Linked DNA regions of Homo sapiens: region 1 is linked to region 2. Evidence: fine-mapped QTL for protein levels in blood plasma. Region 2 holds a variant in brackets. A gene starts in the other region. All regions are shown on their reverse strands.

Region 1 (5,333 bases), not on the chromosome of region 2:
CCGGGGGCGCAGGGTCGGCCCGGCGCCAGTAGTACCTTGAGCTGCGGCTGCGCCCGGGTTCGGAGCGTCGGGGTCCGGGTGCGGTGGCGGGTCTGGGCGGCAGGTCCGGGCGTCGGGCCGGGTCGGGTGGGCTCTGGCGGCCTGGGGCGCTCACCGCATGGCGCGGCCGGCAGCAGGGGCAGAAGGCGCGGGCCGGGTCCCTCCACGTGTCCGCCGCCCGGTGTGGCCGCCGCCACCGCCGCCGCTGCTATATATGCGGCGCACCCGGGAGCCGCCCGGAGTCGCGTCACCGGCTCAGCGCCCGCCTCCTGCACCCTCGCCGAGCCCCGAGGGCGACGGGAGTGACCCGAGCTCGGGTCCTCTGGGCCATCATAGGCGGGTGCGGCGGAGAGCCCCCCCTCATCCCGCGGGAGAGACTCCCCCAAATCTGCAGAGAGAACCCCAAACCCTGTGGGAGAGACCCTAATCCCGAAAGACAGAGCCCAATCGCCCCGCGGGAGAGCCCCCAGACCCGTGGCCCAAGTCATCGCTGTGGCGTCAACCCCACTGCTCCCCCCGGGGTCCCAGCCCCAGAGCAAGCCTGACCCCCCACAACGTCCCACGCCTGCGGTCTCCCTGCAGCTTCTCCTCCCAGCCCCTACCGCTGCAAAAGCCAGCTGAGCTCCGCAGCACTGGAGACCCCAGAGGGTGACGGGCAGGGACGACTCCTCAGTCCGAGCCAGCCCCAGCTGGGAGGTCATGGGGTACCCGGGGAATGGCGGGCAACACTTGGCCCTGCGCCCTGGCCGGCTTGTGCTGGGGCTGGAGCGAAGGTTCAGGCCTCGGGAGCCGTCGATGGCGGGGAGGGCAGGCGTTCCCGGCTCCCTGTGCCCAGCGACCTCCCTCCTGTTTCACTAAAGGGGGGCTGTGGATCTCAGGGTCTGCTTGGCCATCCCATTGTGGGAGCTGCGGGACCGTCGAGCATCCACAGGCACCAGCTCAGAAGCTCGGCCTCTCAGTGCCTCCCCTGGCTGCCTGGTCCAGTTGTAAGAGGGAGCTTTAAGCAGGTCCAGCCATTGGGCAACTGGTTAGGTCCAGAGGGAGAGCAGCCCAGACTCCCAGAGGCCGCCAAGGGGTGGGCGGTGGGCAGAGCAGCAGCAAGAGGCTGTCCTTGTGCCCAAGGCAAAGACATCCCACAGGAACAAGGCCCTCCTTGGCTCCTCCACAAACCCTTCCTGAGCTGGGGCCAAGTCCCGAAACAACCCAGGAGAGAACCCAAGCCTAGGCTGTTCCTTCACCCCATTCCCAGGCATCAGGGGAGCACAGGATCCCAGGCATCACACTTGTACAGTGTGGCACCTCCGGGCTTCCGAAGAGCACGGGGTCATCTGCTGAAAACTCGCCTGACCTCCCCTCCCACTGGCCAGACACCACCCAAGTCCTCAACAGCAGCAGCTGGGTTAGGATCTCCCCACCCACTGGGCTCAATATCAGATGGGTTGATGTCACATCTGTGGGTTGATGTCCACAGGGCACAGGACGAATGATGATCATGACAGTGTCATCTTACCTGTCCTCTACACTTTAGTCTTGGGAACCTTTGCACAGACAGCTACAGGCTGCCCCCAGGAGAGATCCGTCTGCCTCCACGTGGCTGGGGAAGGACAACTGGGCTTTCAAGAACTCTGGCGAAGGCCAGCGGCTGCTGGAGAAGGTGCAGGGCTGCAGCCTGGTGGCTGAGTGTCTGCTGTGGTTTATGGGAGGAAGAGGAGGAGACAGGACTTGGGGAGGGGTCTTAGGAACAGACTCCTGGCACGACAGTGGTGAGGGGTGGGGTGTTCCCAAGGGCACAGTTTGACTTCTGGTCATCCCTATTTCTTGCAGCCTGGGGAGAGGAGAGTCAGGCACAGGGGACCCTAACTAGGACTCACAGGCTGATTTCGGAGCCCACAGTAAACCCTGAAGTGGTTTCCTGCCGGGAGTGGGGGCGTGGGAGACAGTGAGTCGCCATGAGAGTCTGGGCCAGCCGTGGGCAGAAGGACAGCCGAGAGGCGGAGGAGCAGAGGGCACGTTCCTGTGACTCTGCAGAGAAGTGACAATGATGTCCTCTCATGCCCCATGTCCTTGTGTCTAGATGACATCAGGGAGTGGGCAGGGGCTGGGCTCATGGGTGCCTCTTGGCTACCTGAGAAATACTGCAACCTTTGGCCCCCGGTGGTAGTGGGAGCCCTGCTACCATCCCAGAGCTCTTTCTTGCTTTCTGCTGAGAACAAATCCAGCCCAGTGCATAGCACATCTTAGTCAATTCCAGCCTTCTCCTTTCTTCCACGTTAGGCCCCCTTCCAAATCCTGCCAGAGCTTGACTACACTTATTTTCTCTATTTACTTTGTCACAGAGGCTCTTAGTCTGTTTAAAGGAGCACAAACTCTAAACCTAAATCCTTGAGATGGATTCGAAAAGAGACTCAAAGTCCATCCCTTAGTCATGGGCTGGAATTTGAGGTACATTAAACTTTCAGCTGTCTTCATTTGGGCCTATGTACTCTTTTTGTTTCCTTTTTTGCTTTCAAAGAAACTTCAGACTGGGCGCAGTGGCTCACGCTTGTAATCCCAGCATTTTGGGAGGCTGAGGTGAGTAGATAGATCACTTGAGCCCTGGAGTCCAAGACCAGCTGGGGCAACATAGCAAGGCCTCATCTCTACTAAAAATAAATAAATAAATATTTTTTAAAAATCAGCCAAGCATGATGGCACGTGCCTGTAGTCCCAGCTACTCAGCTCAGGAGGCTGAGGTGGGAGGATCACCTGAGCCCAGGAGGTTGAGGCTACAGTGAGCCACGATCAAGCCTGCACTCCAGCATAGGCAACAGAGCAAGTCTCTGTCAAGAAAGAAAGAAGGAGGGAGGGAGGGAGAGAGAGAGAGAGAGAGAGAGAAGGGAAGAAGAAGAAAGAAGAAGAAGAAGGAGGAGGACGAGGAGGAGAAGGAGAAGAAGAAAAGAGAAGGAAGGAAAGTGAGGAAAGAGAAAGGAAAAAAAGAAAAATAAATTTCAGGCCGGGTGCGGTGGCTCATGCCTGTAATCCCAGCACTTTGGGAGGCCAAGGCGGGTGGATCACAAGGTCAGGAGATCGAGACCATCCTGGCTAACATGGTGAAACCCCGTCTCTACCAAAAATACAAAAAATTAGCCGGGAGTGGTGGCAGGCGCCTGTGGTCCCAGCTATTTGGGAGGCTGAGGCAGGAGAATGGCGTGAACCCAGGAGGCGGAGCTTGCAGTGAGCCTAGATCGTGCCACTGCACTCCAGCCTGGGTGACAGAGCGAGACTCCGTCTCGAAAAACAAAAAACAAAAAACAAACGAAAAAGAAATTTCAGGGTAGGTTATCTGGTCAGAGCCTCCTTATTAAAAAGACATTAAGCAACTGGAAACAAATCTTCACATGTATTTTGAATTCATTTAAGAAAGCTCCATTGAATAATTAGACACATGTATTCAAAATAAACATGCCCATGCCTGATTCCTCCAGGTCCCTAAGTTCTTTTTCCACGTGGGATGACACCCACCGTCTTGCTTCCCGCTTAGTCTGGGTGAGTGGGTCTCGGTATAAACCCTGGCTGGGACCCTGGCCCGGAAGTGCGGTGACCATGGGAAGGCTACAGACAAGCAAGGCAGTGGCCTGAAGGCGTGCTGGGGTTTCCTGAGGTCGGCAGATTCCTTCAGACAAATGAGGCCAGCACACCTGGGATGACAGACACCTGCCTCCCGGCACAGACTGTGCTGGAACCACAGCCAGTGTGCTAATGGCTCTTTGCTCAGTAATGACCCAATGGCAGTCATTGTCAACCTGTCATCTTGAAGACAGCCCAGTGTGCAGCAGACAAAGTGGGTCACCATTAGAGTAATCGAAATCAAGCAGAAAGCCTGATGTCCCCCGCTGCCTTCGAGCCAGCCCATCTTCCTTAGAAGCGCTGTCCACCACCAGGAAAAACCACCCTGAAGCTGAGAACTCAAGCAAGGGTCAAGGGTCACCTGGGCCATGCCCACTGCACGGGAGCTCAACCGTCCATTGCCTGGCAGTGGAGCTGCAGTGGTGAAATCAGCAGCAGGGTCCCTGCCCTTGCGGAGTTAGACCCTCACGGAGACCCATTACAGTTGGCCCCTCTGTATCTGTGAGTTCCCTGGCTGTGGGTTCAACCCACTATGGACTGGGTCCTTGTAGGTAGGCCTAGGATGGGTTTCTCTGTACGAATACGTACAGACTTTTTTCCTTGTCATTATTTCCTAAACAATACGGTATAACAACTATTCATGTAGCATTTACATTATACTCAGTATTATAAGTAATCTAGAGATGATTTAAAGCATGTGGGAGGGCCATCGCGGTGGCTTATGCCTGTAATCACAACACTTTGGGAGGCCGAGGCGGGCAGATCACTTGAGGTCAGGAGTTCGAGACCAGCCTGGCCAACATGCCAAAACCCTCTCTCTACTACATATACAAAAACTCAGCCAGATGTGGTGGCGGACATCTGTAATCCCAGCTACTCGGGACGCTGAGGCAGGAGAATCACTTGTACAACTGAACCCGGGAGGCAGAGGTTGCAGTGAGCCGAAACGGCGCCACTGCACTCCAGCATCTGGGTGACAGAGTGAGACTTCATCTCAAAAATAAAAAAGTTAAATTAAAAATAAAGCATATGGGAAGATGTGCGTAGGTTATATGCAAATACTATGCCATTTTATATAAGGGACTTGAGCATCCACGGATTTCGGTATTTGCGTGGCCAGGGGTTTCCTGGAACCAACCCACTGTGGACATGGAGGGCCAACTGTATGCAACAAATGGTTATTGTACAAATAACCACCCCATTGTCGTGGGAAGGAGATGCATGGATTAGGGGAGCTGAACCTGACAGGTGAGCAGGACTGACTGGGTACAGAATGAGGTCCAGCACACTCCAGGTGGAGGGGGTTACATGGGTACGCCCCCTTTTTGGTCCTTTTCCATTCCTTCTTCCTGCTGCCTGGAGTGTGGACGTGAAGGCTGGAGGTGGGCAACGAATTTGGACCATGAGGTGATGGCTTCAGGTGACACATCAAGGCCGAGGGAGCCTGGGTCCCAGTGACCCTGAGCCTGGTCCCTGGGCTGCACACTTCCAGGCTTGTTTCACAACAGAGGAGAAGAAGCATCTCTCTTATTTAAGCCAATGGCCCATAGAGGTTTTCCATCACGTGCGGTAGGAATTGTTCCAATCAGTTTCACAGTGGTCAACAAATGTTTGATGAATGAATGAATGAATGAATAAAAACACGTGAGAGGGTACACCACCTCCACCGCTGCTGAGAAGCTCATGTC
Region 2 (5,371 bases):
GTTATTACTTCAGAGAAAATAGGAAAACAGTTGGGAGTCAGCCCACGGGAAAGTGGCTTCTATGACTTCCATCAGAGGCTTCTAGTCTCCAGGGCAAGGCAAATTCTCTAGTTTATGCCAAATAGGCTTCCTAGAGAATACTATCCAAAGAGAGTTTCAAATCTTAAGCTACAGAAGCATTTATAACTAAACAGAAATCTGCAGCAGCTTCATCATACCCATACAAATAAGTATCAGTACCTATCTATAGATACCTAACTGGCAATAAGACTCAAAACAAGTGCATTTAATAGGATAAGAAATCAGGACAAGGTACAGAAGGGTCAAATTCCTGCACAGAAAAATAAAGCACGAATGTCATTCTCATTTCTCCTCTTCCTTTTCTTGGCCTTTCTTCAAGATTCATCTTTTGTGAAGCTTTCTCCAATAACTCTGGCTCTCACTAACCACTCCATTTGTTGACTGCCTGAAACACTAGTCTCAACCAATAATTCTAGATTTCTTTTTAACTGTTTCATGTATCCACTTTGTGTCCCAATTTGAGTGAGTTCTCTTAAAAGGCCCCCACACTGCCTAGAGGGAGCTTGTTATTAATATTGCTAATAATAATAGTGAGGCAATATAACACAGTGGAATGAAAGCAGTGGAGTCAAACAGGCCTAAGTTCAAATCCTGCTTCTACCACTTGCTGGCTACATGATTGTAAACATATTACTTACCTTTCCTAAGCCTCAGTTTTGTGAAGAAAATGCAATGAGATATCATGCTGAGAGTACAGCATTTGGCATATAATGGATGCTCTGACTGAGCACCTTTACTAGCTTGGTTACCTTCCCTTCCTCCGTAATAAGCACTTGTTGATATGAACTGAGTCAGAGTAATTCTAAGGAGGGCTGCCAGTGGCACTATCATATGCATTACACTTTCCCCATTACCCTCTTCCATGTGCCTTTGTCATTTCCTGGCAAAAGTCCTTTCGGATTTTCTACTCTACTCTCTTGAAAAGGCCAACCACATAAGTCACCCAAAGGACTATTCAGAATGGTGACATTAGCAGCCAGCAGGAGGGCATCTCCACATCTGCATCTCATTTCCACCACACCCACACGCCAGCACTCCCTCCCTCTGGGTCTCCCAAAGAGAGAATGCTAGAGAGAGAAAGCAGTGAAGCAGCCAAAAGAGGAAATGGAGAGAAATAGCTCTGTGGTCTCTCTGTGCACCCCTCCTGGGAAGAACACTCAGGTCCAGTCTCCAACCTCAACCCCTATGAGAAAAAAAAAAAAACAAAACCCTTGCTCACATTCCTGGAGAAAAGGCACCCCCAGATTCTCGGCCTCTTCATTTCTCCAAGCCCTTCACCTATCAATTTCACCATCCCACCATTCCCTAGGTTAACTATAAAATAGAGCCGCTTTTAACTAATTTGTCTTCAGTGGACCTCATTCGTACTTTTACCAAGCAGCAGCCTTCACCATTCTAAGTTGGAAACATGCTACCTATCTCTTTAGAAGAAAAAAAAAATTATTGAAGTTTCCCATCTACTACATTAAGGCAGGTCTCCTTTTATTTGTACCCCTTTAATGATCCAGTATATTTTACCAAGGTCTTCATCTTTCAGCTAGAAAAAGCTACCATTCACTTCCACGCCCCGCCCCCCACCACGCACATTTCAGAAAAACAAGCAATCAAAAAAAAAAAAAAAAAATTCCACACGTCCCCTCCCTGCTGCACAAAATACAACAATTTTATTATTCATAAAGAGACTTCAGCCATGCTCCGGGGAACAAGCCCGTGTACACCTGGGCCACTACATGTGTGATTTCATCAACCTGATGTCAATACTTGATATCAGCCTTCATGGGTCCTGGTTAAAAAAAACCCACCACCACCTTCTCCCTCCAAAATACCAATTTCCATTCCAAATTCACTCCGTGCTTCATGAAGTTAAACCTTTTTTACTGGCCCTAAATGTTCCTTCGGCCTCCTGGGACTATTTCACTTCAGATTTTATGTGTCTAAGCTAACAAGTGTGTCCCCTCCTCTACCCCCAAAAAAACTATTTCCTAAGGGCCTTTCCTGTTGCATAAAGTAGCTCCTTCTTGTATGGGACCTGGGGGACCTGGGGCAATTGAGGGGTATTTTAGCTTTGGGTTCGCCTTTCCGGGCTGATGGATGCCCTCCCTCACCCCGCAAACGCGCGCGCGCTCAGCCCGCACCTCCTCCCAGCGGGACCTCGGGGACCCTCCTTTTTATTGGTCTGAAACGTTTCCTCGGCGACCTGGGACCGTCCTCTCCTGGCCTGCGGCTGCCGGCGGACCCCGACCCCCGAGGGCG[G/A]CGGCGCCCGGCACCTACCAGTCGGCGTGCGGCTCGTCGACCACCAGCAGCACCTTGGCCTTCCTGGCGGCTGCGGGCGCGGGAGCGGGCGCGTCCACCAGGCCAGCCGAGGCGGCCGTCTGCTTCACGGCTTGGGACAGCGAGCTGAAGAAGCTGCTGCCCACCGACGGCGTCGGCGCGGGCTGCGGCGCGGGCGCCGAGGCGGGCGGCGGCCTCCGCTCCGGGCCCGGCGAGGCGGTCGGGGGCGCCGCCGAGGCCGAGGCGGCGCCCGGACCGGGGGGCGGCGGCGGCGGCGGCTGCTGGGGCTCGGGCCGCTGCAGGTCGGTCATGTAGCCGTTGGGCAGGTTGGCGATGAAGCTGCTGTCCGACAGCCGGCGCCGCAGGAAGTTCATCATCTGGCTTAAAGGGCTGGGGGCGCGCGGGGCTACGGGGTCTGGTGGCGCGGAGGGAGAGCGAGGGCGGAAGGCGAGATTGAGGCGACTGAGGCGGCTGAGGCGGCGGCTTAGCCAGCAGAGACTCAGGCCCCGGCACCAGACCCCGCAGACAGCAGCGGCGGTCTGGGCCAGGCAACCCGCGCGGCGCGAGGCTCGCGGAGAGGGAGCGGGCGGGGCAGGGGCGGGGCCAGAGATAGCCCCCGCCCCGCGCCGCAGAGGCGGCCCCGCCCCGCTCACGGAGGGCACCTAGCCGCGCGTCTGGCGACTCTCGGGGCTTGCAGGAGGGGGCGACCCAGGCCTCCAGCAACCTGAGCGTGACTATGCGGGGAGGGCGTGGGAGCCAGGCCTTCTCCCCAGGGGAAGGAAAAGGAACCAGAGGCCCCACCATCTTTTTGGTTGGAGAGAAAAAGAGCCGTGTCCCAGCTGAAATGGAGGCGAAGGAAACCGACCCCACTCCTTTTGGAAGGATAAGAGGTGTCAGCCTCCCTATGCGGAGGTGAGAACGAAAGGAGTCATCCCAATCACGCGCGCACACACGCACACAAGCACGAACACCCTGTAGTGAGGAGGAAAAGAACCACCTCCTTTCCCAACGCTGGGGAGAAAGATGTCATCTCCCCAGCCCCCAGAAGAGGGGGAAGGGAATAATCCGCTGTTACTAACACACACACACACACACGCGCGCGCGCGCGCGCACACACACACACACACACACACACACACACACACACACCCTATGGTGAGACAAAAAAGAAATACCTCTTCTAGGGAGGAAGGCAGCCTCCTTACTCCAAGGCGAGGGAGAGGAAAGGGGAGAAACAGATCCTCTCTACTCTGTCATGGAAGGAGGGGTGGGGTGTGTTTTCACTCCTGCACTTCTAGGGACAACAACAGTATGTACTTCTCTCCCCCTCCTCACTGACCAGTGAGAGAAAACCAAGAGAAGACTGGAGACATGGTCTCCACCCCAAGAGGGATATCTAAGGATCCCCCAACCCCACCGTGTTTCTTTCCTAGCATGCATTGATGCATCCAGTGCTATACCAAGAAGGACATCTCTTCAAGATCTTTCTACTTGTTTTTTCCATTTTATTCGTTGCCTTGACCTCTGTGAAGACATTTCTGATGGCCACCTTCCCATGTGCACTCTCTAAATCTTGCGTGACTCTTGGACCTTTAGTTTTCATCTCTCATTAGATATACTTTCCCTTGTGTTGTAATGGAGCAGGACACAGCAGATAGGCTTTACAGCAGACTACCCCGGGTGATATGTGACCCTGGATCAATAACCCCTGTGAGCCTCTCTCCTTAGCTGATAAAAAGGAATAAGTAACCCTTTCCAGAGTTGTTACATGGAGTAAATGAGATCATGTATGTAAAGCATCTGGTACACAGCAGTAGGTATTCCAGTAGTGATGCCTGAATTCTTTTTTCAATTGGTTCTCAGTAAGTATGTACTGGGCTGAATGGAGTCAGGGAGTGGCTTGTCACTAATGTTGGTGGGCAGTTCTTGCTTCCTGTATCCCAGCTGGCACTCAACTCAGGGCCTAGAGATACACAATCCAGCTCTGAGCCGGTGCTATCAGAGAAGTCTCCAGTCAACTATAATAACACAGTGGTCTTCCTATCTACTACATGCTTGGCACAGTGGTAAGAGCTGGAAAGGCTGAAATGAATGGGAAGTGGCTCTTGTCTATTGCAAGTTCATGATCTATGTGGGCTGGGGGATGGAGGGAGGATAGACACAGGAACCACATAAGATGTGAGAAATGCTATCATACAGTTGGGCAAAGAGGGTTAGGAGGCCTAAGGAGGGAGGGACTCATTCTGCCTCTGAGACTTAGGAAGGCCTCTCAGAGGAGGTGACATTTGAGGTGGATCTTGAGGCAGCTATGTTTACCAGTAGAAAAGTGAAGAAGGCAGGCAGGCAGGCAGCCAGAGAAGGCATGGAGAAGGTATGTAAGTTGATGGTTCCTCCAGGAAGCCTTTCGTCAATCCTCCAGGGCGGGCTAAGTGTTCCATATCCTGTGCTTGGCTTTGTCATAGACCCCAAAGAAACTATCATACAATATTCTGGTGACTAGAATGTAAGCTTTTCTAGGACAGGATTATGTCTTAGTTATCTTTGGGCTTCACACCAAACACAGGACCTGGCATGTAATAAGGACTCAGTTGTTTGAGAATTGAACTGTAATCTTACCCAACTCGGTTTTTGTGTTTATTGGAGAATAAAACTGATAAGTCACTAATAACATAATTAAATAAACTTAATTATTGCCCTTCTTAAAAAAAAATTTTTTTTTTGAGATGGAGTTTCGCTCTTATTGCCCAGGCTGGAGTGCAATGGCACGATCTCAGCTCACCACAGCCTCCGCCTCCCGGGTTCAAGCATTTCTCCTGCCTCAGCCTCCTGAGTAGCTGGGATTACATGCATGCACCACCATGCCCAGCTAATTTTGTATTTTTAGTAGAGATGGGGTTTCTCCATGTTGGTCAGGCTGGTCTCAAACTCCCGACCTCAGGTGATCTGCCCGCCTCAGCCTCCCGAAGTGCTGGGATTACAGGCATGAGCCACCACGTCCGGCCATCAAAGGCATGTATCT

Alleles and levels. Positions count from the first base shown, and alleles are read on the strand shown. Strength reflects both the effect of a copy and how common the allele is.
As copies of A replace G in region 2, the plasma level of the protein whose gene starts at base 224 in region 1 goes down (strong association).

What was found. PIP is the posterior inclusion probability: the model's chance that the variant is causal. Protein levels are from antibody-based Olink assays in UK Biobank. Linkage for the fine-mapping came from a reference panel and not from the study's own genotypes, which makes the PIPs less certain.
Region 1: GAL starts here. The variant in region 2 is fine-mapped to the plasma level of the GAL protein (UK Biobank, PIP above 0.99).

The regions. Positions count from the first base shown.
Region 1 is chr11:68,679,435-68,684,767 of GRCh38, reverse strand. GAL (galanin and GMAP prepropeptide) reads right to left here and starts at 224. Exons shown (of 6, transcript NM_015973.5): 1 at 36-224. The region is part of intron 2 of LOC107984343 (a long non-coding RNA gene); the gene reads left to right. RefSeq lists enhancers at 1-153, 830-1,505.
Region 2 is chr3:12,001,910-12,007,280 of GRCh38, reverse strand. SYN2 (synapsin II) reads right to left here and starts at 2,893. Exons shown (of 13, transcript NM_133625.6): 1 at 2,353-2,893. The coding sequence starts at 2,729. RefSeq lists an enhancer at 1,694-2,194. The variant G/A (reference allele first, on the strand shown) is at 2,335.